Linked DNA regions of Homo sapiens. The protein of the gene in region 2 interacts with the protein of the main gene of each other region in a pairwise test. Each region holds a gene or a part of one and is shown on either strand. Other genes may lie near its edges. The genes, in order: CDH1, ECT2, KLHL20 and CTNNA1.

Evidence for each region.
Region 1: the proteins of ECT2 (region 2) and CDH1 interact in binary tests that used the Homo sapiens proteins (3 or more experiments, as listed by UniProt).
Region 3: the proteins of ECT2 (region 2) and KLHL20 interact in a two-hybrid assay, tested with the Homo sapiens proteins (one study listed by BioGRID).
Region 4: the proteins of ECT2 (region 2) and CTNNA1 interact in binary tests that used the Homo sapiens proteins (3 or more experiments, as listed by UniProt).

The regions. Positions count from the first base shown.
Region 1 is NC_000016.10:68,733,313-68,740,323, reverse strand, and holds the start of CDH1 (cadherin-1 isoform 1 preproprotein), read right to left. Parts: upstream 3,033-7,011; 5' UTR 2,909-3,032; coding exon 2,861-2,908; intron 2,028-2,860; coding exon 1,913-2,027; intron 1-1,912.
Region 2 is NC_000003.12:172,745,778-172,753,749, reverse strand, and holds the start of ECT2 (protein ECT2), read right to left. Parts: upstream 3,025-7,972; 5' UTR 2,893-3,024; intron 2,749-2,892; exon of another isoform or gene 2,634-2,748; intron 1,601-2,633; exon of another isoform or gene 1,278-1,600; intron 1-1,277. UniProt on the Homo sapiens protein: Guanine nucleotide exchange factor (GEF) that catalyzes the exchange of GDP for GTP. Promotes guanine nucleotide exchange on the Rho family members of small GTPases, like RHOA, RHOC, RAC1 and CDC42.
Region 3 is NC_000001.11:173,717,965-173,724,996, reverse strand, and holds part of KLHL20 (kelch-like protein 20), read right to left. Parts: intron 1-7,032. UniProt on the Homo sapiens protein: Substrate-specific adapter of a BCR (BTB-CUL3-RBX1) E3 ubiquitin-protein ligase complex involved in interferon response and anterograde Golgi to endosome transport.
Region 4 is NC_000005.10:138,931,425-138,935,566, reverse strand, and holds the end of CTNNA1 (catenin alpha-1), read right to left. Parts: intron 2,990-4,142; coding exon 2,855-2,989; intron 2,680-2,854; coding exon of another isoform or gene 2,609-2,679; intron 1,766-2,608; coding exon 1,478-1,765; 3' UTR 533-1,477; downstream 1-532. UniProt on the Homo sapiens protein: Associates with the cytoplasmic domain of a variety of cadherins. The association of catenins to cadherins produces a complex which is linked to the actin filament network, and which seems to be of primary importance for cadherins cell-adhesion properties.

The DNA.
Region 1 (7,011 bases), on a different chromosome or scaffold from region 2:
TCTGTAAAAAACTTCGAATGACTTCCAAAGTTCAAAAAAAAAATGTAAAGACAACAGCGTGATTGCTAAAGATTCATGTGGTCAAAGACTGGAAGAATGACACAGTGGAGGTGTTCCCTCAGGGGAATTGTGGGTGATTTCTCTTAAAAAAAAAATGCCTCTTATTGTGATACCCAATCAAGTAAAATCATGAGAGAGGAGAAAGTGGTTTGATATAAAGGAAGCACTTGGGATTCAGTGAAACCAGAAGAGAAACTAGCCCCTTCCCTTGCTCCCTGGACAACAGTCAAGTGGAACAAAGCAAACTCTAGATTGTCACAACGATAAGGCCTAGAAGTACATTGGGTGTATGCATTTTCATCCTGAGTCAGAACTACCATGCTTTTTTTAAAAAAAGATCATTATTCCTGGCCAGGCGTGCTGGCTCATGCCTGTAATCCCAGCACTTTGGGAGATTGAGGCAGGTGGGTCACCTGAGGTCAGGAGATCCAGACCAGCCTGGCCAACATGGTGAAACCCCTTCTCTGCTAAAACTACAAAAAATTAGCTGGGCATGGTGGTGGCACCTGTAATCCCAGCTACTCAGGAGGCTGAGGCAGGAGAATCACTTGAACCTGGGAGCCAGAGGTGGCAGTGAGCCGAGATCACGCCATTACACTCCAGCCTGGGCAACAAGAGTAAAACTCCATCTCAAAAAAAAAAAAAAAAAAAAAAATCATTATTCCTTGGGGGAAACAGTACCTGTATCAAGATGTTTTGGTCCAGGCACAGTCTCTCAGGCCTGCAATCCCAGCACTTTGAGAGGCTGAGACAGAAGGATCCTTTGAGCCCAAGAGTTCAACACCAGCATGGGCAACATGGAGAGACTCCTGTCTCTAAAAAAAAATTTATTTTTTATTTATTTTTTGAGACGGAGTCTTGCTCTGTCACCCAGGTTGGAGTGCGGTGGCACTATCTCAGCTCACTGCAACCTCTGCCTCCTGGGTTTAAGCAATTCTCCTGCCTCAGCCTCCTGAGTAGCTAGGATTACAGGCACACGCCACCATGCCCGGCTAATTTTTATATTTTTATTTAGTAGAGATGGGGTTTCACCATGTTGGCCAGGCTGGTCTCGAACTCCTGACCTTGTGATCCGCCCACCTCGGCCTCCCAAAGTGCTGGGATTACAGGCGTTAGCCACTGCGCCCAGCCTAAAAAAAAGTTAAAATTATCCAGGTGTGGTGGCACATGCCCATGATAACCAGCTACTAGGGAGGCTGAGATGGGAAGGATCACTTGAGCCCAGAGGATGGAGGCTGCAGTAAGCTATGATTGTGCCACTGCACTCCAGCTTGGGCAACAGAGCAAGACCCTGTCTTTAAAAAAAAAAAAAAAAAAAAAAAAAAAAGCTTTTATATCTGTAAACAAAAGCCACAGCCCAGTAACCAAGAGAGGGCTGCTCTTCAGTCATCCCAGAGATGGTGCTTAATGGGGCCTGGGAGTCAGATCCCAGTTCAGATATCTGCTCTGCTGACCCTGAGCAAGTGGACGTCACTCTCTTAGCCTCGGTTTGCTCAACTGTAAAACGGGAATACTCCTGCCAGGCCTTCCCACCCACCAGGTTTTTGCAGTCTGAAATGAGAGACTGTCTCTACAGTGCTGAGGGCAATAAGAGAAATACGAAGGCTTCTAGTAAGTGCCCTCAACCTCCTCTTCTTTATAACATAGTCAACAACCAGGCAGGGTTACCCCCTCCACCACAGTGTTCAGTCGTAAACGTTTGGATCCCCAAATCTGCGTAAATTCCAAGGGGTGTCGTTTGAGCCAAGGAGGGAGCTTGCCCATTGCAACCCAGGGGTGTGGGAGTGCAATTTCTCGGCCCCTTTCCAACCCCTCCCTACTCCGCCCAGGGACACCGGCAGCGCGCCCTCACCTCTGCCCAGGACGCGGCCTCTCTCCAGGTGGCGCCGGGGCACCGTGAACGTGTAGCTCTCGGCGTCAAAGCCAGGGTGGCAGGGCTCCGGCTCCTGGCAGAGCCAAGAGGAGACCTGGGGTGGGGGAAAGGTAGATGGAACCGGGTGACTCGGAGGGTTCCCTCCTGCTCACCGAAACCAACAGCGCCGCCCCTCCCTCGCTCCCGGCGTCGGGATTGGGGGAGGACCCCAGCCCGCAGCCCCGGGACGGGCGGGCAGCGACGTCACCCTCCCCCACCCCGAAACCTACGGCCGCCGAGCCCCCAGGAACTCCCGGGAGGGGGCCGCCGAGTCACCCCCTCAAGACCTAGCCCACCGTTCCCTTTCAGTCTCCTTTCTCATTTTATTGGAGATGTCTTTATTCTCCAGTACCCCACTTTCCTTAGACCGGGAATGCACCACTCCTCAGAGCGAGGGGCGCTCCCACCTCCTCCGACCTCACTTTCTTATCCCCGGGACCCTCACTCCTATTTACGACCTTTCTTGGCATGGCAGGTGCCTTTATTTCTACGGATGCCCCTCTCCTTCCCTCGAAGATCGTCCCCACGACTCCTGGCTCCCCCTCGACTTGCACCAGGGCACCCCTTCTCCACACCCCACCCCCTACACCCCGCTTCACGCCCCCACCGCCCGCGCGAGCCCACCCCGCGGACTCCGCGGCCAGACGCCCCCGCCTCGGTCTGCGCTGGAGGGGGCAGGAAAGCCGCGCTCGCCCCTCACCACCCACCCCCCACTCCCATCACTGGGGGGTCCGGAGCGCGCGAGGCTTCCAGGCCGCTCCGCTCCTCAGGACCCGAACTTTCTTGGAAGAAGGGAAGCGGTGACGACGGGAGAGGAAGGGGCGCAGGGCTGGGGCGCGGAGCTTGCGGCCCGAATGCGTCCCTCGCAAGTCAGGGGATCCGGGGTACCTGCAGCAGCAGCAGCAGCGCCGAGAGGCTGCGGCTCCAAGGGCCCATGGCTGGCCGGGGACGCCGAGCGAGGGCAGGCGCCGGGTGCGGTCGGGTCGGGCCGGGCTGGAGCGGGCTGGAGTCTGAACTGACTTCCGCAAGCTCACAGGTGCTTTGCAGTTCCGACGCCACTGAGAGGGGGTGCGTGGCTGCAGCCAGGTGAGCCCCGGAGGCACCGCCCCCCGTACCGCTGATTGGCTGAGGGTTCACCTGCCGGCCACAGCCAATCAGCAGCGCGGACCCCTCCCCAGGGCGGAGCTGACGGCCCGCCCACCCGGCCTCGCATAGACGCGGTGACCCTCTAGCCTGGAGTTGCTAGGGTCTAGGTGGGTTATGGGACCTGCACGGTTCTGATTCCACTGGGTTCGAATCCCAGCCCCGCCGGTGGCTCACTAAGACCTGGGATCAGAAAGGGCTTTTACACTTGGCTGAGTTCTTTTGTTTTTTGGGATTTTTTGTTTGTTCGTTTTGGAGATGGGGTCTCACTCTTTCACCCAAGCTGGAGTGCAGTGGTGCGATCACAGCTCACTGCAGCCTCGAACTCCTGGGCTCAAGCGGTCCTCTGGCCCCAGCCTCTCTAGTAGCTGGGAGTACAGGTGCACACCACCACGCCAGGCTAATTTTTTTTTCTTTTGCCTTTTTGTAGAGAGACAAGTCGGGGCGGACAGGGGCAGTGGGGGCGCTGTGTCTCCCTGTATTGCCCAGCCTGGTCTCGAACTCCTGGGCTGAAGCGATCCTCCTGCCTTGGCCTCCCAAAGTGCTAGGATTTCAGGTGTGAGCCATGAGCCACTGAGCTAGCAGCCTAATTTTTTGTTTGTTTGTTTTGTTTGTATTTTTTGAGACGGAGTCTCGCTCTGTCTTGCCCAGGCTGGAGTGCAGTGGCACGATCTCGGCTCACTGCAACCTCCGCCTGCCGGGTTCAAGAGACTCTCCTGTCTCAGCCTATTGAGTAGCTGGGACTACAGGCGTGTGCCACCACACCGGCTAATTTTGTATTTTTAGTACAGACGGGGTTTCACCATGTTGGCCAGGCTGGTCTGGAACTCCTGACCTCAGGTGATCCACCCTCTTCAGCCTCCTGAAGTGTTGGATTACAGGCGTGAGCCACTGCACTCTGCCTCGAGCGGCCTAATTTTTTAAAAAATTTTTCTAGAGAGGGGATCTCACTATGTTGCCGAGGCTGATCTCAAATTTCTGAACTCAGGCGATCCTCCTGCCTCAGCCCCTTTACTGAGTTCTCATTTTTTAATCTAGTCTTTTTTAACTGTAGAGCTTCATGGGTTAGTGAGTCAGCAAATTGATTCCCTAGGTCAGGACCACCTCCCAAAGCCTCAGTTTCTCCACCCTCCTAATGGGAATAATGATCAGAAATGTCTCCCTATGCTGTTGTGGGACTCCCATACAATTAAAATGACAAATGTTTCTTGAGCCATAAATGCTCTGTACAGAAGTGAGGGGTAAAAATAGTAACAATAGGGCCAGGCATGGTGGCTCACGCCTGTAATCCCAGCACTTTGGGAGGCCGAGGCGGGCAGATCACGAGGTCAGGAGATTGAGACCATCCTGGCTAACGCAGTGAAACCCCGTCTCTACTAAAAATACAAAAAATTAGCCAGGCGTGGTGGTGGGCGCCTGTAGTCCCAGCTACTCGGGAGGCTGAGGCAGGAGAATGGCATGAACCTGGGAGGTGGAGCTTGCAGTGAGCCGAGATCGCGCCACTGTACTCCAGCCTGGGCGACAGAGCAAGACTCTGTCTCAAAAAAAAAAAAAAAAAAAAAATAGTAACAATAGGTGCTGGACATTGAAGATTACTGTGCCAGTCTCTGTGCTAAGCATTTGACACTGACCAGCTCTTTTTTTTTTGAGACGGAGTCCTGCTCTGTCGCCCAGGCTGGAGTGCAATGGTGTGTTCTTGGCTCACTGCAACCTTCGCCTCTTGGGTTCAAGCGGTTCTCCTCTATCAGCCTCCTGAGTAGCTGGGATTACAGGCATGCGCCACCACGACTGGCTAATTTTTGTATTTTTAGTAGAGACAGGGTTTCATCATGTTGGCCAGGCTGGTCTTGAACTCCTGTCCTCAGATGATCCACCTGCCTCAGCCTCCCAAAGTGCTGGGATTACAGGCATGAGCCACCGTGCCCAGCCACTGACCAGCTCATTTAAGCTCATTTCAAAACAACCCAAGAGCTGTATTATTATTCCCATATGATAGATGGGCAACTGAAGCTTAGAGAGATTGAGGCCAATGAGAGGTGGCGCAGGACTGGAACCAACCTCTCTGATTCCAGGGCCTTTCTTCTAACAATCAGCTTCATCTCATGTGGTCCCAGTCTTCCAGCTGGAGCTGCAGTTTTCAGTCTGTTTTTTGATGTTGACCTGGAAGAGACCTTTAGAGTTCACCCAAACCTATGATTTGCAAATAACTTGTTCAATGTCACATAGGCAGGTCAATGTCAAAGCCAAAGACCAAAACCCAGGATCTTCTGACCCCCAGAGTGGGGCTTTTAATGCCACAGCCACACCATGGCCACCATCACCTTCTCCAGAGAATTCTGTCCCCAGTGAAATAATTTTAGGATCAAAAATAGAATAGATAGGGGCCAAAGGTCTCAGGTCCTGGGCCAGTGGCCCTCCAGCACCCGCCGTCCTCCATCAAAAGACAAAAACAGAATAGACAGGCAAATGTTAGGTTAGACAACTTCCCTGTCTGACTCCCTGTGGCCAGCCACGTCTGGGTGGCTTGTCTACCCCGACAAGGGCACCTCCTTTCCCTTTATCCTTCAAGCATGGTTAGAACTACACAGCATTAAGTGGAGTCAGCCACTCACTAGCCCTGTGACCTTGGGGAAGTCAGTGTTCTCCTTTGTATAAGTGAATTGGCATGAGCTAATACAAAAACAATCGCTAAGCAGAGTTCTTGGCTCATCATAGCAACTGCTCAATAAATATTTGGAGTAGGGGTTACTCTTTCAAAAGGCCCAGCCCCTATTTCGCTTCCTCCTGGGGAAAGCCATGTTTGGAATATTTCACCCAGAGCTAAAGGTGCCTCTGAGTCCATCAAGTAATTTCTCAAATGCAGACGATTTCTGGGCAGCCCAGCACCGCCCCCCCCAACAACCTGTCCCCTCAATTTTAATGAGTTTCCAATCAGGTCTTTTGGATGTCGTATTTTGGCTCCCTCTGCTCTTAACCCACCAGGAGGCTCAGAGGGAGAAGGCTCCGGTATTTCCTTTCCCACTAGGATCGTGCCTTGAACAAGATAATGGAAATACAGAAAGAGGCGTTTCCCCCATGGGGCTGTACTGTCTGCTTATTTTTTTCCTCTCAGTTATGTAAAAATACATATTTTATACCATCGCTGGGCCCTGGGAGCCTTTAGGGCTTTACTTTCTTCTACCCAGCAAGCCTTGGCCTCGTAACTCTGCAGCGACTCTCATCGACTCTTCCATTACACTCTGATAATTCAATAAAAAGGATTTTAGAAAACAATTAGGGGCAGCAAAGTCAGGTCAGGCCTGATGCATTCTTCAGACTTCTCGGCAAGTCCTTCTCCAAGCTCCAAAGACAGTAGATCAGGTGTCCAGGGTGAGGCGGGAACACAGAGGGGCTCCTTGTGGAAGACAGGTGCTGTGTGACTTTCGCAACACACTGAATTGCTTCTCTGTTTCCTATTTATTTATTTAGTGACAAGGTCTTGCTCTGTTGCCCCGGCTGGAGTGCAATGGCGCGATCTCGGCTCACTGCACTCTCTGCCTCCCAGGTTCAAGAGATTCTTGTGCCTCAGCCTCCTGAGTAGCTGTGATTACAGACACACGTCACCATGTCTGGCTAATTTTTGTATTTTAGTAGAGACGGGATTTCGCCATGTTGGCCAGGCTGGTCTCAAACTCCTGACCTCAAGTGATCCACCTACCTCAGCCTCCCAAAGTGCTGGGATTACAGGTGTGAGCCACTGTGCCTGCCCTCTGTTTTCTCTTGTATCAAACAGGGATACCTAAGCAGGCCTGGTGGCTCACAACTGTAATCGCAGCACTTTGGGAGGCTAGTTGGGAGGTGAGAAGATTACTTGAGCCCAGGAGTTTGAGACCAGTCTGGGCAACATGGTGAAACCC
Region 2 (7,972 bases):
CAATGAATTTCTCAGCTATTTTTCAGGCACAAATCATAATTTACATCACATCTATTTGCATTTAGTGCTCGACTCTCCACCTATCTTGTCTTCCAACCCCCAATCCAACACTCTTGACTCATCCTCTGTGGATGTCTCTAAACCTCTCCGGTATAATTGGGCTGGTCCCTTGTCAGTATTTTCATAATTCTTTAAAAACACCTCTCCCCTAAAAGGTTTGACAAAACAATTATGCATGGGTGAGTGCCAATATAACTCTGGACTATGAAAGAAAATCCTTTTTTAAGTTTTCCAGGACTTAAGAAGAGTTTAAAAGCTAGACAGGGAATAAAAGGTTTAACAAGTTTTCATCAGGGTGGGTTGGGGGCTCACATCTGAAATCCCAGCACTTTGGGAGGCCAAGGCAGGAGGATCACTTGAGGGCAGGACTTCAACACCAGACTGGGCAACATAGCAAGACCCCATCTCTACAAAAAATTTAAAAATTAGCCAGGTGTGGGTGGCAGGTGCCTATAGTAGCTACTCAAGAGGCTGAGGTGGGCGAATCACTTGAATCCAGGAGTTTGAGGTTGTAGTGAGCTGTGATCCCACCACTGCACTCCAGTCAGTCTAGGTGACAGAGCAAGACCCTGTCTCTCTAAAAAAATTTTTTTAGAGATTTTTTTATCAATTTTCAATAAGTCAACTTTACTGAGAGTAAATTTCTAAATATTAGGCAAATATACAGAGGACCCACCTTTAACGAGAGCTACATGTCAGACTTTCCCCTTTCCTACTTCTTCAGATTAATAAAATATACAAATACCTTCCTCCAGAGTCTTAGCAAAGTAACAGTTTAAACTGTATGCTGTTATGTGACACTTCAAAATCAGGCAACTCAGCTTCCTGTCTCAGCCCTGCACATAGTCAGTTAAACCTCAGTTTCCACATTGGTGGAACACACATAGTACTACAACTCAAATCTAGTTAAGATGAAAACTGAATAGATGTCTTAAAGTGAACAACAAACAACTATTCTCATGTAATATTCACAATATGGATATTTCTTATGGCTTTACCATACATCCATGTCAATCATTATTCTAAGGCTCTCCAAAGGAGCGGTCCAATAGTTGTAACAGCCTTAATTTAGAATCAATGATAAATTCTATCCAGCCCTATTATTTTAAGTCTTCTACACTCAACCATTTCCAATGAAAAGGCATTAAAGTGGCTTTCATTCAAAGTCCCCTTAAAAGAATGTTTAAAAAAAAAAAAAAGTCAGGAGATGAGCTAACCTGCTTTAAGGACTGGAAGAGGAAAATCAAAAATACCATTTGAAAGGCCGGACGCGGTGGCTCACACTTGTAATCCTAGCACTTTGGGAGGCCAAGGCGGGCGGATCACGAGGTCAGGAGTTCGAGACCAGCCTGGCCAACACAATGAAACCCCGTCTCTACTAAAAATACAAAAATTAGCTGGGCTTGGTGGCAGGCACCTGTAATCCCAGCTACTCAGGAGGCTGAGGCAGGAGAATCGCTTGAACCCGGGAGGCAGAGGTTGCAGTGAGCCGAGATCGTGCCACTGCACTCCAGTCTAGGTAACAAGAGGTAGACTCCGTCTAAAAAAAAAAAAAAAACTTCTTGAAAATATTTACATTTTTCTCCTATGCCTCCCTCTTTAAGAGGGAGCACAGCAAATGATCAAAAGCAGATGATTAATAAAAGGGAGGGAGCATAGCAGATGATCGAAAGCAGATGATTAATAATTAAAATTGCCCCTGATGATACTGTATATGATCAATTTATTGCCAAAACAGCTTCAAAATGTATAGAGAAAAAGAGATGCACTACGGTAACTTGATGACATAACTAACATCCAACAGTCAGATTAGAAATGGAAATATATTAATCACTTTTTTTCAAATTACTGTATTCCAGAAGCCTTTAAAATAAGCACAATAGGATCAGTGTTCATAAACCTACACAGCTTCTCACCCAAGAACAGACCCAAGGAGCTTCTAACTAAACACACTATAACACATGCCCCCTTTTATCCCAGAGATAAAATTTGCCATGTAAACAAACATTCAAGTTTCCTTTTACTTAAATACTTTTTAGGCAATCATCTTCCAAGGTGAAGGACTAAAATGCAATCCAAGATATAATGGTGGTGTTATTAACAATAACATTACTATTAACAACTGACATTTACTTAACGCTTAATACGTGGCAGACATTGTCCTAAACCTTTTAATCTCTGCAGTAATCCTAAGAGGCAGGTACTATTATTATTTTCAATGTATGGATGAAGAAACGTAGGAACAGAGAGGTTAAGCAACTTCCCCTAAGTCAAACTGTTAGTAAGGGGTAAAAGAGGTATTCAAAGCCCGGCTAAATCCAGAGGCTGCGCCTTTAACCACTAAGCCGGACACATCTGTGCCGGGTGGCTGGGGAGGACGAGGGGCGGATGGCCTGGATTTATCTTGCAAAAACGAAAAATTAAACTTCCCGCAAAGAAGCCAGGATGAATCCTAGAATAAAACCACGGCGCACTCTGAGATAAGCCCCCAAAGGCTGCAAGTGCCGGCCCCCAAAGCCACAGGGCTGCGCGGCTTGCCAAAATCCCTTTCCCAACTCCCTCCCTTCACCCACACTCTTCTGTCCAAAAGAGCCAACAGGTGAGGGCGAAGATGCCCAGCAATACTGGGGGCTTCGGTCTCCCACTCCGCGTCAGGGCCCGGCTGCTGGGGGTGGGGTGCGGCGAGGGAGTTCCCGGATCCGGGAAGCCTGAGCTGGGGCGCTCCGGAATTCGCGGTCACTAGGGGCGGGGACGTCGACCGCAGGCAAAAGAGCCCTTGGCTCTGGAGCCGCTCGCCCACTTGCACCTCTCTCACTCACACAGAGTCCTTACCACTCTCAAAAAAGCCCTAGGAGTTCCACCTCTTCAAACGCCGACTCCTCTCACAAATACCGCCATTCCTCGCCGGCGGCCGCCACAACCGATTCAAAAACTAAGCTGCTCTCTCTAAGAGCCATGCCGATTGGCGCGTGATGTCAACCTCTTTCCCATAGGCAGGAGTCTCCAGAGGGGCGGTGATTGGTCGACGCTCTCCAAGTCCCGGCAGGCGCCGCTTGATTGGTTGTGCGTGTGTTTCAAATAAGCCCAACGACTCGGGCGTCGGGACGCCAGGAGTTTGCAGAGAAGTGCCCGGATGTGGCCAGGAGGTGGCGGTGGTGGCTCCTGAGGTCTTAAAGGAGTAGCAGGTGTTTCTGTGACTACCGCATATTTACTCAGTAAACATCCTACTTCCTGAGGAAAGTTTGGGTGGATTCTCCTCGGCCCCACCCAGCTTTTTTTTTTTTTTAAACGATACCAAATCTTTTAAGCTTAAATCAGTGCCGCCAGAGATAAATGTTTCCCTGCTGCTTGCTGTGAGCTGTAGGATTTTCCTATCGGGATGCTTTCTGCTTTAGGAATGTATTTAAATTTGAGTTAAGGGATTTTGACTTTGATGGTTGTATTGGCGTGTGGCAGGGCCAAGGACCGGTCCTAGAACTCGGACTCCCCAGGTGGACTTCAAATCAGCAGCCGCTTATTTAAATGCTATTATTTAAAGCACTGCGCTCCCATCTAGGGAGTATCGCGGGTTAGAATCAATTCTTAGAAATTAGAAAAATTCTCGGATTTTTTTAAAGATAAGCTTGAATTTGATAAAAATATGCCACGAGATTCTAGAATTTTTGGAGCCAAATTGCTTCGTCTTTGCCCCCCTCCGCCCACTAAGAACTTGTACTTTCCCCTAAAGTCTAGTCAAGAATGTATCAAGTTTTTCCTGTGATTAGCGTTGCTATTATGAAAATAATTTCTTTATTTTCTAAATATGATACCATATAACACAATCTCTTAAGAAAAATACACCCCCACCAGGTGGGTTTTCCATAGTTCCCACCTGAAGGCTAATATAAATAGAAGAAGAAAGGGGAATCAGATGCCAGAACCTAAATACCAATAAGAAGAGGCAAACGTGTACTTTGGGATGGAACACTTGTGAGCATCTCAAGCAGGTTGTGGGGACTTAACAATTTTTTCTAATTTTGTCAGGCAATCTTAGAATGCCTGAAAAGTTTATAATGCTGTCCACAAAATGAATGAAGCAATCTGGTAATTATTGGTTTCCCTGCTTGTCAGTATTTAAGTCTGACCTTCATTAAAATGCTGTGATAACTGTTACGGCAGAAAAAAAGAAAAACAGTAATTGAAATTTCCATTTGGAATGTGCTTGCGTATTTGGAAGTCGGGTGTGCCCAGCATTCCAAAAACGTTCATCACTGAAAACATATTAAGCTATTGTGGGAAGCAGCCCTACTTCCTTTGTGCACCGCTTTCTGCTCAACAGACTTTCCAAAGCTAATGATTAACTGTGTATGGTATCATTGCCATGAATTTTAAGCTTCCCTAACAAAAGCTGTACTTGATTTCTTTTAAGGGATGTGTGGCAGTTAGATTAACAAATAAACGGGTAATACAACCTTTTTCACTCTCTTAGGTCTTCATTTACTCAGCAAATATTTACTAATTTTAAGACAGCCATTGTGCTTGTTGGGGTTATAAAGATGAATAAGGCATAGAAAACTGCCTGTCTGGACCACACAATCTGGTGAGGGAAATTAGCAGATAAACAGATAATTACAGTATAAGGGAGAGAAGAAAGAGAATGAACATACTGATACTTTACTATGCACTTTATACCTTATTTAATCCTTAAAACAACCCACAAGTAGGTATCATAGTCCCATGATACCATGAAACTGTAGGAAAGGTTTAAGTAACTTACCCAGTGTCTCCTAATAAATATTTTAGCCCGCATTAGAACCCAGAAATAATAGATGAGTGTAAATAAAGTCTAGTATAGATCTGTCTGCAGGCTCAAAGAAAGCAATGTGGAGAGGAGTATTTCAGATAATCGTGTGCATAGGTGATCATATGCCACTTAATTGCACCTAGCAGAGGGCTGGTGTCTGGTAAAGTAAAACATGATCCCTCATCTTCAGGTATTTTCAAAAAGCTAGTACTGCAAAGGCAAATGTTACACATTGCTCTCTAATAAACACAGGAATCTTCACATGTAGGTACCAAATAAATATTTCGAGAGTGAATGAGCTAGATCCAAGTTCATTCATAATGTTTGAGAGACTGGATGTCCTGATTAACCTAATCATAGTTTATTCATTTAATAACTATTAAGCACCCATTAGGTACTATGCTAGCACTGAGAATATAGGTGTGACAAGACAAATATGGGCCTTGTTCTCATGGCACTTCTAGCAGATAGCTGTATTTGCGGTGAAAAATTTATTGCATGCATAGGTTTTCACAGAATTCAAATACCTACAAAACAATGATACAAGTAACTTAGTCTTACTGAGTCAGAAGCTGTTTCAAGTGCTATAGTGTTTCAAGATCAGCATTATGAAAAATTTTTAAATACTATATACGGCATAGGCAATTGAACTGAATGGCATATTAACCTTGAACTTTTTTAAAAACATAAATTCTTAATATTAGCTTGTTTACGTGCACTTTAGGCTCTCATAAAAGCTCAATATATATAGGAGACAGTAAACAGTTTGGTGTGGCTGGATCATAATATACATGAAGAGGACAGTGGAAGACAACTGACATACGCTAGGTTAGGCTAGGTGTGGGGGCTCATGCCTATAATTCCAGCACTTTGGGAGACTAAGGCAGGAGGATCCCTTGAAGCCGGGAGTTCAAGACCAGCCTAGGTAGTGACTGCACTCCATCCTGGGCGATAGAGCAAGACCGCCCCTCCCCCCCACCATCCAGCCCCCATCTCAAAAAAAAATAAATGCTGGCCAGGTGCAGTGGCTCATGCCTGTAATCCCAGGCATGAGATTACATGCCTTTGGAAGGCCCAGGCGGGCGGATCACGAGGTCAGGAGATCGAGACCATCCTGGCTAACATGGTGAAATCCTGTCTCTACTAAAAATACAAAAAAATTAGCCGGGCGTGGTGGCACGCGCCTGTAGTCCCAGCTACTCGGGAGGCCGAGGCAGGAGAATGGCGTGAACCCGGGAGGCGGAGCTTGCAGTGAGCAGAGATTGCGCCACTGCACTCCAGCTTGGGCGACAGAGCGAGACTTCATCTCAAAAAATAAAAAATAAAAAGTAAAATAAATGCCATGTTAGAAGGAGCTTGGGAAGAGCTCCACTGTCATGACAGAGTTTAAACTTTATGCTGAAAGCACTGAAGATCAATTAAAAACCTTGAAGCAAGGAAATTATATGGTCTGTGTTATTTTTTAAAAGTAGCGATCAGGACCAGACACAGTGGCTGACATCTGTAATCCCAGCACTTTGGGAGCCCAAGACGGGCGGATCACCTGAGGTCAGGAGTTCGAGACCACCCTGGCCAATATGGTGAAACCCCGTCTCTAAGAAAACTACAAAAGTTAGCCGGGCGTGGTGGTGCGCACCTGTAGGCCCAGCTACTCCAGAGGCTGAGGCAGGAGAATCACTTCAACCCAGGAGGCGGAGCTTGCAGTGAGCCGAGATCACGCGACTGCACTCCAGCCTGGGCAACAGAGCGAGACTCCGTCTCAAAAAAAAAAAAAAAAAAAAGTAGCAATCTGGGAACACAACACAACTTCACTTGAAATAGAAGAATGAAATAGAAGAAAGACCAGTGAGAATATGGTTGAATTCAAACTCATAGGAAATGATAGTCTGAACTAAGATAGAAAAGATGGGTTGGAGAGATAAGGAATAGGAAAAATTACTGGGACTTTGATTAAATATAGAGGATGAGAGTGGAATCAAAATATGTAAAAATTACTACATCCATATAAATTTCTGATAAATAGCAGTATCATTAAATAAATAGAACAGTTTCCAAATTCAGAAGACTAGTTCTCTGTCTTTCTTCCTTTGATGAACCAGCCAATTAGATTCACAGTTCCTTGAATTTTTGAATCCCAAAACCTCAATTCAACACTTATTTTGATGGACAATATCCTAAATGTTTTACACTCAATTGCTTTAGCTCTCAAATGTTAACTTCAAACATTCCATTCTGATTACGAAATTTTCTTCCCATCTCTTAATCCCTTTCACACATGAATCAAGGATATTTAGCCTTCAGTTCCCCCTAATGATAGCACCCCTTTCTAACCCATGGTCATTAATTCAGCTGCTGAAAGACCACCACTTTCACTGTCTTACTTCTCTTCCTGCCTCTCTGATGTTTCCTTCTCGGTTTCCTTTGCTTAGATATTATTGTTCCCCAAAGTATTATTCTCAGGCAACCCCCTTTCCCTAGGTGAACTCATTCATTCCCAGGGATTTAAGTTATATGCATATGCTTCCACGTCTCTCTTTCTTGCCAGACCTTGTTGAAACCCACTCTATAATGCCAGTTGTTTACCAATTTTTTCTGCTCCTGTGACCCACAATCCTATCAAACTCTTCATGTGCTAAAGTGAATTCTTCTTTTCCCCAGCTCTCCATCCTTTATCTCCTCTGCCTCTTGTATTTCTCTCCTGATTAGTAGAATCCCCATTCACTCTGACTCCCAAGTTGGATCTCTCAAAGTCATCTTCCTGTTCCCTTCCTCCTCTTGGTCTCCCTGCACCACCAACCCCAACACCATTCTCCCAATTTGACCTGAAAAATATTTCTAGAATCTGAATCTTCCCCCTTCAGTCCACTGCCCGAGTTTAGGCCTTCATTATCTCTCATCCAAACTATGACAAGGACAGCCTTCTAGTTGGTCTTTTGGGAACTAATCACTCTCTCTACTTCCAGTCATCAGTCACAGAATTATCTTCATTTAGAAAACTAAATATGACTATGTATCCCCCTCCTTAAAAACAAAACTAAACCAAAAGACATGGTTTCTTCACTGCTCACAGAATAAAGTCCAGTATAAGATGGACTTCCCAAGATGACTGTAACCTAATTTTCTATCACC
Region 3 (7,032 bases), on a different chromosome or scaffold from region 2:
CATTTCATATTTAAGGGAATGAGCATAACAAAGTGAACTTATATCATCACTTTTCTAGCTGAAATTAACGGGGATGGTCTAAGAAATTTTCAGAATTACCTTTAAGTACTTATAAAATACCTAAAATACTTTTATTATGTTTAAAAAGTCATTCCAGATAATATATAAGATACAAATTTGTATCTTTTCTTTGCGACAGGGTCTTGCTCTGTCACCCAGGCTGGAATACAGCGGTTTGATCACGGCTTACTACAGCCTCGACCTCCTAGGCTCAACTGATCCTCCCACCTCAGCCCCCTAAGTAGCTGGGACTACAGGTGTGAGTCACCATGCCTGGCTTGAAAATTTGTATCTTATATTCATATTTCATATGTAGAAATTCAGGTGCTAAATTACTAGGTAAAAGTCACAAATTACTGACAAATAATTAGAAATAAGATATTTGGATTTTTGTATGATCACATTATATAAACATGCAGAGAAAAGACAATCTATGCCTCTTAATTAAAATAATTATTCTTTTAACAAATATTTACTAATTGCTTTTAATGTACACAAAGCATTTTGCTATAGACTGTGGAAAATTCTAAGTAATATAAAGAAGCAATCTCTAGAGGAGGAGATACATGAATAACTAGTAAGAGGGCAACCAGGACAAAAGATGTGGTTCAAACATAAGAATTTTCGGAGGAGGCTGAGCCTAGTGGCTCATGCCTGTAATCCCAGTACTTTGGGAGGTTGAGGCGGGGGGATCCCTTAAGCCCAGGAGTTTGCCATGCCTAGGCAACATAGTGAGGCCCCATCTCTAAAAAAAAAAAAAAAAATCCCCAAAACATATATATCATGTATGTGTATGTGTATATATATATAAAAGAATTTTTGGAGGTGATACATATGTTTAGAACCTTGATTGCGGTGATATCATGGGTATATACATATGCCCAAACTCATCAAAATGTATACATAAAATATGTACCTCAATTATACCTCAATAAAGCTTAAAAGTCATTCAGAAAGGCAAAATCTATGAAGTATATGTTTAACATCATTCAGAAAGATTCTGGATCTCACAGGTATAGCCTATCAGGTTACTACAAAGGTTGTTGTTGTAAAGTAGGAATATTACACTGGGTTTTCCCAGAGCTTAAGTGAAATATCTCACATCCATGCTCCAGATCGTTATATTTCTGTTTCTGATTCTAAACTCATTAAGCAGTCCTCTGATGGAAAATTCTTCCAAAAGTACCATGCTACTTAAAAGGGGGATGACTCAAGCATTCTGATCACTGAGTTTTAGGTCAGCCTCATGTGAGTCTCTCTCAGATGCTAATTATCTACAACTACTGAGAGAGTCTAATATCTAGCCTGCAAAGGACAGCATCCCTATCAGTCTGCTACTTCCAAAGCTGTAGCACTGACGGGAACTACAGTATAATAAAACACTAAAGTGTAAAAGGAGTCTCCTGAGAAGGACAGAAAAATCTATAAGGACATTCTAGGGAGAAGAAATTGCATGTGCATTGCAAAGATATAGCACAAAAATAAAAAACATGGTTCTTCTTTTCTCCAACAACAACCAATTTTTCCAAAACACTTATACATCTGGTAAAAACATCACTGTTTACGCTTGGCAATTTTAAAGACTAAAACATAAAGCTGAGCAGTTAAAGAATAATTTTTACCATCCATATAAACAATCAAGAATGCTTTTAACCACAGAGCTAAAATGGTGCCTTGTACACAGTAGATGCTGAAAGAATAAATCACATGATTAACAGTGGTACAATCAAGCTTCTTTTTTAAAAAAGTAACAATTAAAGACAGAAGACCAAAAATTCCTGGAATACTGACACTGCATGCTGAAAGTAAAGTGTTATTGTCACAACCTTAGTTACATACATAAAGATGCTACTGTTGAACTGAGATATAAACAATTTTTTATTTCACCTAAGTACAATGTGGGTAAACTAAGCTAATGTCTCCGTTTTTCTTTTAAACATACCATAGTGCCAGGCGCGGTGGCTCACACCTGTAATCCCAGCACTTTGGGAGGCAGAGGTGGCTGGATCACCTGAGGTCAGAAGTTTGAGACCAGCCTGGCCAACATGGTGAGGCTCCATCTCTACTAAAAATACAAAAATTAGCTGGATGTGGTGGCGCATGCCTGTAATCCCAGCTACTTGGGAGGCTGAGGCAGGAGAATTGCTTGAACCTGGGAGGCAGAGGTTGCGGTGAACCAAGATTGTGCCACTGCACTACTCCAGCCTGGGAAACAAAAGCGAAACTCTATGTCAAAAAAAAAAAAAAAATTACCATAGCAAAAAAAAATAATGCTCTTATTACTGCATCAGTATAGTAGAATCTTTTTTTCTTTTTTTTAGAAATAAGGTATTGCTCTGTCACTGAGGATGAAGTGCAGTGGTATGATCACAGCTCACTGCAGCCTCAAACTCCTGGTTGAAGCGATCCTCTCACCTCAGCCTCCTGAGGAGGCTCTCAGGTGCATGCTACCACGCCTGGCTTAATTTTAATTTTTTGGTAGAGACAAAGACTCTCTCTGTTTCCCAGGCTGGTCTAGAACTCCTGGCCTCAAGTGATCCTCCTGCCTCAGCCTCCCAAAGTGCTGGGATCACAAGTGTAGGCCACTGTGCCCCCAGCCATTGGTGTCCATCCATATAATTTTCACTTCAGGAAATATCATTCATCTTTTGCCTTTTTTCCTCAACCATTTAAGAATGTAAAAGCTAGCTGGGCATGGTGGCTCACAGCTGTAATCCCAGCACTTTGGCAGGTTGAGGCAGGAGGATCGTTTGAGCTCAGGAGTTTGAGACCAGCTTGGGCAACAAAATGAGATTCCATCTCTACGAAAAAATTTAAAAATTATCCAGGTGTGGTGACATGTGTGACAAGTGCTTCTTGAAAAGCTTGCAGAACCACAAGCCAAGATAAACTTCTTTTCTTTATAAATTACCAAGTCTCAGGTACTTCTTTATTGCAATGCAAAATGGACTAATACGCTATCTAAATGAACATTTCACCTTTCCTACTTCAAAAATTTTGTTTTACTTTGAAAATTAACAACTTGACCTTAAAAAAGATTCAGTTGCACTGACCCTCATTTATAGTCCTAAATATACTTGAATAGAGACAGCTGGAGATTTGAGTGTATAAACCCTCAAAACAGAAATAACATCTCAAAGTGTCACTTCTACTTAGTAGAAGGGGTCCCAATAGGCACTATATTCCACACCTGATTCCACACCAGAAGGCCAAGCTATTAACCTCTTTATTTGAAACTTGGTTGTGAATGTTTTAGTCCCAAGACATCTCATCACGGCTTATTGGATAAAATGAGCATAAGCCTTGGGTGCCTTGGTCCAGTGATCGAGACCAAGATGGAGCAGGAAGGGTAAATCCTCATGCAAGCATGCTAGTTTCCCTTTATATCAGGATAGCAAAAGCCTTCCTAGAATACCCCTCAACAACTACTGCTGACATCTCATTGGTAGCACTGTGTCACACAGCCCTTCCCATATGCAGAGACAACTAAGAACTCAGAGTATTTAATTTTCTAGTGTCTATAGTAGACGGAAGAAAAGAAGAGATGTGCAAGCTAACCTACAGTGCATGCCACACTAGGGAATAGTCAAATCAAGCAAGTATGTTTTACACTATTTTTAAGCATACACTTTAGACTGAGTAGAACAAATTGAAAATTTCAAAGATACGAGATTGGAAATTTTGTCTTCTGAAATTGAACTGAAGGAGTAGCTCAGCTATCCTTCAATGTGAGTAAAAAACTATCAATAAAAACTCTAGATACTGTTAAATAAAATAAGACCCAAAGCATGTAAAGCTTCTTACTCATTTTAGAGACTTTATGGGGCCTTCCTGCTAGGCCCCATCGTAAACACCCCTGGTACTCACTACAGTTCTGTCCTCAGCATTCTCCTTTTCTGTTCTACCATCACTTATGCCTACAGCTTGAAGAACCTTCTTAGTATTGATGACTCACATTTTTTTTTTTAAATTTCTAGCCCAAATCTCTCTTCTGCCCCAGAGTCATATTCCAATCACATGCTGGATATCTCCACCTGGCTGTTTCCTAAACACAATAATCTTAAAGTATATGAAACAGAATCTATTCTTGGCTTACTGAAACCTGTTCCTCTTCCTGTATTTTTCTTTTTAATCTTATCATGGCGGCATCTGGTTTCCTAAGTTTGGAGTCATTTATAACACTATCTCTTCCTCACTCCATGTTCACCAAATCCTTTTGATTTTACTATTATACAAGCTCTCAATTCCATCTACTTCTCTCAACCCTCACTGCCATAGATATACTTCAGGTTCTCATCATCTTTCATCTAAACTACCACAACTACTTTAAATTCATTTCCTTGCCATAATTTCTTCCCTCTTTCCAATCCATCCCCTATGTGCCTAGAAATCAGTTCAAAGAACAAACGATGTATATAATAATGTCCATTGGCTCTTAAATACCTAAAGGATAAAGTTTGAATTCTTTCCCACTGTTGTAGCCTCAATTTCCATGTTTTCTACTTCCCCTTCTTCCTCAAAATACCCTATACTCCACATATACTCACTGTTCCATGCATGTCAGACAATTCTGGGTCTTGGTACTCTCTCTTATCTTTTTTTTTTTTGCACAAGCTGTTCCTTCCTTTTATGGTGTCCTTAATTAACTCCCTTCTTTAGAAGTAAATTCTTATTCTTCCTAGAAGATCTAGCTCAAATGTTACCATCTCTGTGATGCTTCCTCATCTCCACAGAGCAGTTCCCTCCTCTTAAGTTTACATCTCTATTAAAATTCTGTTAACATTGTTTGTTAATTAATTAATTAATTATATTTTAGAGATGAAGTCTCGCCCTGTCATCCGGGCTGGAGTGCAGTGGCACAGTCACAGCTCACTGCAGCCTTGAACACCTAGGCTCAAGTGATCTTCCTTCCTCCTCCATCTCCCAAAGTGCTGGGATTACAGGTATGAGTCACTGTACCACGCCAATACTGTATCATTATATCTGTTCTCATCACTTGATCTGTATCACACAATATACAGGAATAGAGTGGTACTATATAAAGGTTTGATATATGAATAAACCAATTTCTACAATCAAGCTCAGTTTTCTATTTATATATTTAAGGAAAGTTGGAAGAATTAATTACAAAATATTTGGTATCTCTTAATAAAATGAATGATTGAAAATTAATATCTTGGGAAACAAACATATTGTTGGTAAAGACTATGCATTTGTGTAACTCTAAGGGCAAAAATTTGTCAATGTCCACCAAAATTAAAAAAATGTACATAATCTTTAGGCAATTCTAAATCTAAGAATTTATTCTTTTTTTTTTTTGAGACGGATTCTTATGCTTTCATCAGGCTGGAGTGCAGTGGCACGATTTTGGCTCACTGCAACCTCCACCTGCTGGGTTCAAGTGATTCTCCTGCCTCAGCCTCCTGACTGGCACTGTAGCTGGGACTACAGGCACGCACCACCATGCCCAGCTAATTTTTGTATTTTTAGTAGAGAAGGGGTTTCACCATCTTGGCCAGGATGGTCTCGATCTCTTGACCTTGTGATCTGCCCGCCTCAGCCTCCCAAAGTGCTGGGATTACAGGTGTGAGCCACTGCGCCCAGCCAGAACTTATTCTATACTTACACATCTGGGCAAAAACCACCTACAAGGATATTCATTGCAGACAGAACTGGTTGTAACAGCAAAACAGTTGAAATAAATCTCTCTCAAATGGGACTGGTTAACTAAGGTGCATATAGACAATGGAATACTACATAACTATTAAAAGGAATAAGGTAAGTCTATATGCATTTGTTACAATTTACAAAATAATTTTTCTTTTTTTTTTTGAGACGGAGTCCCGCTGTTTAGCCCAGGCCGGATTGCAGTGGCGCAATCTCGGCTCACTGCAAGCTCCGCCTCCCAGGTTCACGCCATTCTCCTGCCTCAGCCTCCCGAGTAGCTGGGACTACAGGTGCCCGCCACCGCACCCGGCTAATTTTTTGTATTTTTTAGTAGAGACGGGGTTTCACCGTGTTAGCCAAGATGGTCTCGATCTCCTGACCTTGTGATCCGCCTGCCTCGGCCTCCCAAAGTGCTGGGATTACAGGCGTGAGCCACCGCACCCAGCCACAAAATAATTTTTCAAGTGAATAAAGATACAGAAGAATGTGCATGATATACTGACAGTGTCCTTTCAAATGCATTTTCTTATTTTTATTTATTTATTTAAAGAGATGGGGTCTCTCTCTGTTACACGGGCAGGAGTGCAGTGGCATGATCACCACAGCCTCGAACTCCTGGGCTCAAGCAATCCTCCTGCTTCAGCCTCCTAAGTAGCTGGGTAGCTGGGAATACAAGTGTGAACCACTATGCCCTACAACATTTGTGTCTTTTTTTTTTTTTTTTGAGACACTGTCTTGCTCTGTTGCCCAGGTTGGGGTTCAATGGTATGATCACGGCTTAACTGCAATCTCTGCCTCCCAGACTCAAGTGATCCTCTCACCTCAGCCTCCTGAGTAGCTAGAACTTCAGGCATCTGCCACAACACTTGGCTAAATTTTTCTTGTTTCCTTTTTGTAGAGATGGGGTTTTGTCATGTTGCCCAGGCTGGTCTTGAACTCTTGGGCTCAAGGGATCAGCCCACCTCAGCCTCCCAAAGTGCTGGGATTACAGGTGTGAGCCACTGTGCCTAGCCATCTTTTCTTTTTAAAAGCTACTAATGTTAGCCAGGTGTGGTGGCTCACGCCTGTAATCCCAACACTTTGGGAGGCCTAGGCAGGGGGACTGCTTGAGCCCAGGAGTTTGAGACCAACCTGGGCAACATGGCAAAACCCTGTATCTACAAAATAGAAATTAAAAAAGTGAAAAGAGAAGACATCTTATATACATTTGTGTATGAACTACAATGCCTCTAAAAGAATGCATAAGAAACTGCTTACAGTGGTTGCCTTTGGGAACTGGGGTCAGCAATGGGAGAGTTAACTTTT
Region 4 (4,142 bases), on a different chromosome or scaffold from region 2:
CACCTTGACGAGGGGAGGTGGAGGGAGCAAGGTGACAGCTGACTGTAAGTGAGGAAGGGGAGAAAATGTCAACAAGCTTCTCTTTAGGGAACCTTGCTTAGGGTGGGGATGCCAGCTGGGAAGGATCATGGGGTTAAGGATGGTTTTCATCTCGAAGGCCACTATCAATCAATCATCATAGCTTGGTATGTATGTGTGACGGGAAGGATGCAGAAGGGATATGCTGACAGAAGGACGCAGGAGAGGGGTCAGCTATAATGAAGACAGGGATGCCTCCGAGGTTGACATGAACCTCAAGGAATGGACATGTGAATTCCCAAGGTGGGGGTGCAGGGTGGGGCACTCAATAGGACAACGGGCATGGCCCTCCCTGATGGGTTGGCACGAGCCGTGCAGCCTAGAGCCACAGACAGTTTCCCTCCCGGGCATCCCCATCCTGGAAGAGACGGACACCGGGAGGGCCCAGAGCACCACAGATACTGCGGGCAAATCTATGACTTGAAGGCAGAGAAGACGACTTTGGGCTCTTGGATGTCGTGGTTTCATAGTGGACTTTATTGGGAAAAGTTAGTTAGTGTAAAAAACATTCAAATTAATTCATAAAATTTAAATAAGGTGATAGTAAATTATACCTTGTAGTTAATAGTAATCAATCAATCAATCACTACAGTAATCACAAATAAGGTAAAGTCTAAATTACTGCCTTAGCAAACACTATGTTGTCAGGTTTTTCTGCTGCAAGCCCAAGGCGGGAAACACTGCAGTTATTAGAAGTGAGCCCAATGATGAATTTGCATTTGAAGCTGGGAGAAAGAGGAAAAAAAGTGTGTTCTGATTATGGCATCGAGACACTGTAGCCTAAAAAAGCAACTTTATTAATGTCCTGCAGCAGCGTACATTAGTAATTATAACAATGCATTAAAATTTTCATTTCATGTCATAGAGAATCAGTTTTCTTCATGATACATTATGTTTTACTGAGTGAGTTTGTCCCTCCAGAGACCTTTCTGGGAACATGCCTTCTCCAGGGACTGCTTCCTAAGATGCCCAGGTTGCTTACCACAGGTCATCTTTGGTCATTTAAAAGCAGTCAAGCTGTCTGGACTGCACCCTCTCAACTGAAGTTGAGCCAAATTCCCTTCTCTCAAACCCTAACGCCGCCATCACTAAGAGAATGGGCATCTCGGCTTGGTCAGAGCATTACTAACAAGCTAATGTGGGATTCTCTTTGGTTATGAATTTTTATTTTTATTTAAGCATACAAAAAATACAGCTAGAAGTAGGCTCCTGCATTCTAAAAGCATTTTTAATCAACTTAAACTATGTTCTTGGAAAATTCACCACCTGGACTGGTTCAGTCTGCCCATTTCCCTGTGGAATCTAGTATCAGTGTTGTATTTAGCAAATTCATTTGAGTGACGAACAGTGACTGATATTCAGGAGCCCCGAGGGGTGGGGGCGGCCGGCCTGGGCAGACTTAGATGCTGTCCATAGCTTTGAACTCGCTGAGGGCCTGCACCGGGTTCACGTGCTTCTTCTGAGATGCCCGTTTAATCTTGGTCTGTGTCTCATCCTGTTTCTCTCTCTTCACCAATGGCTTTTTCTCTGGTGCCTTCATCTTCCATGACACAGCAGGAAGGTTGAGGGAAGCCATACCCTGTGACTTTTGGTATTTGGTAGAGGCGACGTAGGATGCCTTCACTGTCTGCACCACAGCATTCATCAAGTTCTTGGCTGCCTGGATCAGGGACATGGCGCTGTCCACCTACGAGGCAGACAGGGGTGGTAAGAAGCACCGGCCTGACCTCCAGCCTCGTGGACACAGGTGGGCTGTGCTTGAAGGGGAGCCCCCTACTCCTCTGCAAGACCAGGGCCTGGGCAGGTCGCAGAGGATTGGGCAGCAGCCTGTTCCTGAAGAACACCCTCAACGGCTGCTCTTATCTAAATAGCCTGGAAGCGCCTGCCCTCAGACCCTTTGGAGAAGACATGAGGCAACCTCGCCTTGCTCACCCCCACCCCTCAGCAAGTGTTTATTCACTCAAACCAACTGGAAGTCACTGTAAGTGATCCCAGAGCTGTAAGCACGTGGGGGAGGAGAAGCAGGAATCGAGACAGGGATGTTTATGGCAAAGCAGATGAGCAAATGGTCTCAATATGTTCAATATAAGAAGTGTTTCTTTTAAAGGAAATTCAGTGGGATTAAGAGAAGCCATGGAGGCTCGGTGGACCCCAATCCACTCAGCAAACCTCTTCTTTCCCCTGCCCTAGGTGAGAAAGGCCTCAGAACTGTGATGTGGTAAAAAGAAAGAGACGCTACCCAAGCACTCTGAGGAGTGAAGGGCTTTTGAGAAAACACCCTATCTATGTCTACTCTTAATTCCTCTCTGGGGGAAGAAAAGGAAGTTTTGTTTTGTTTTGTTGTTTCGTTTTGTTTTGAGACAGTCTTGTTCTGTTGCCCAGACGGGAGTGCAGTGGTGCCATCTCGGCTCACTGCAACCTCCATCTCCCAGGCTCAAGTAATTATTGTGTCTCAGCCTCCCAAGTAGCTGGGACTTACAGGTACCTGCCACCACGCCCGGTCCCAAGGAAGATTTTTAAAAATTCCTACCCAGTGAGTGGCCAGCAAAGGGGAGGAGGCCAGCCTTTCAGCCCTTGCAGTGCCCCGCAGGTGTCACAGTTCTACAGGGAACAGATGATGGACAGACCTTGGTCTCCAGAGACTGGGACAGGACTTGGAGTTTCTGCACAGCACACTTTCCCAGGGCAGGTGTTTATGCGGATAGGAGGTGACTTTCATTTCTGACAAGGGTCAGCACGTTCCCACTGGCCCTCTTTTTGTTCAGCTAATGCTTACCCCAGAGACAACAAGCTCCCCGCCGAGATTCTGCACCTCGGCCTTGACCTTGCTGCAGATGTTCAGCTGGTGGCAGTAGAGGGCGATGCGTTGCAGGTAGGCCAGCAGGTCCTGCTTGCAAGCCGAGTCGGGGCACTGAAGAGAGAGCAGGCTTAACACCAAGTATCCTGGCCTGGCCCAAGCACCCCCGACCCCACGGCTGTTTCTGAAAGGTTCAGTGTGGCACTCACATGCTTCCTCTCCTCTTGCTGGAGCAAAATCACCCAATTACCTGAGGCAGTCACAGCCCTTGCCTACACTCTGCTTGGGGATGGAGGCGGGTGAGCTGATGGAAGTCGTCCATGGGACCCTGACTGCGCCGCATGGCACTGGTTGTATAGCCAAGGCCTTCTGAGCCTCCCACTGACTTCCCTCCTATGACGGCGGGGAAACCACCCTGGCCAAGGATCCCCTCACCCCAAACGGCAGGGTGGAGGCCCATGCCCCTCGAGGTGAGAACAAGCCGGCTCAGCAAGCAGGAGCCTGGCTATGGAGAAAAGTCCAGATGTTTTTAGCTAAGTAAACAAATAGTTAACTCTTCTGCTCTGAGGCACTTTGCGTTATTAATGCCTGATGACAAAAGCCACTCACTGCAGGCTGAGGTGGAAGACAAGTGAGTAAAGTAAAGCAAGAAAAAAAGCAGTTGGGGATGGTCAAAGAGAAAAGGGTGGCCCCTGCCCAGTTCCTGTCTCGCTCCACATCTCAGAGTTTTAGAGGCTCCCAGATTAGGACCAGCCTAGAAAGCTTTACCCAAAGGGAGAAACACAGAGCACCTCTCAAGTGTTTATAGCAAGCAAACATTTTCTTCCAGTGAGGCTGGAGCAAAGTACACCACAGAGAGTGGTATGAACTGAGACCCCGCAGACCATACTGGAGATGAGCTGTATTCTAAGTAGTCATGGAAGCAGGGCAGAGCCATGTGATCTGCATTTTCAGATGACAGTATTGACAGCTGGATGCAGAAGGAAGTGGAGAGAGGAAAGAACAGGAAATCGGGAGCGGCCACAGTAGTCCAAGTGGCTATGGAGATCTGCAGAAAGGACAAGACTGGTTTGTGTCAAGATACATTTGGCCAATGGAAGCAATAGGCCCTATTACCGATTGTGTGGGAGTCAAGGATGCCTTTACAATCTTTGGCTTGTGTAAGGAGGCTTGTGTCTCACACATCCTGTGGCCTAGATGAGGCTGAGAGTTTGGCTATTTCAGGGAAAATGGTGGGGAGGCTTGTTAACTACAGAGAAAAACTGTA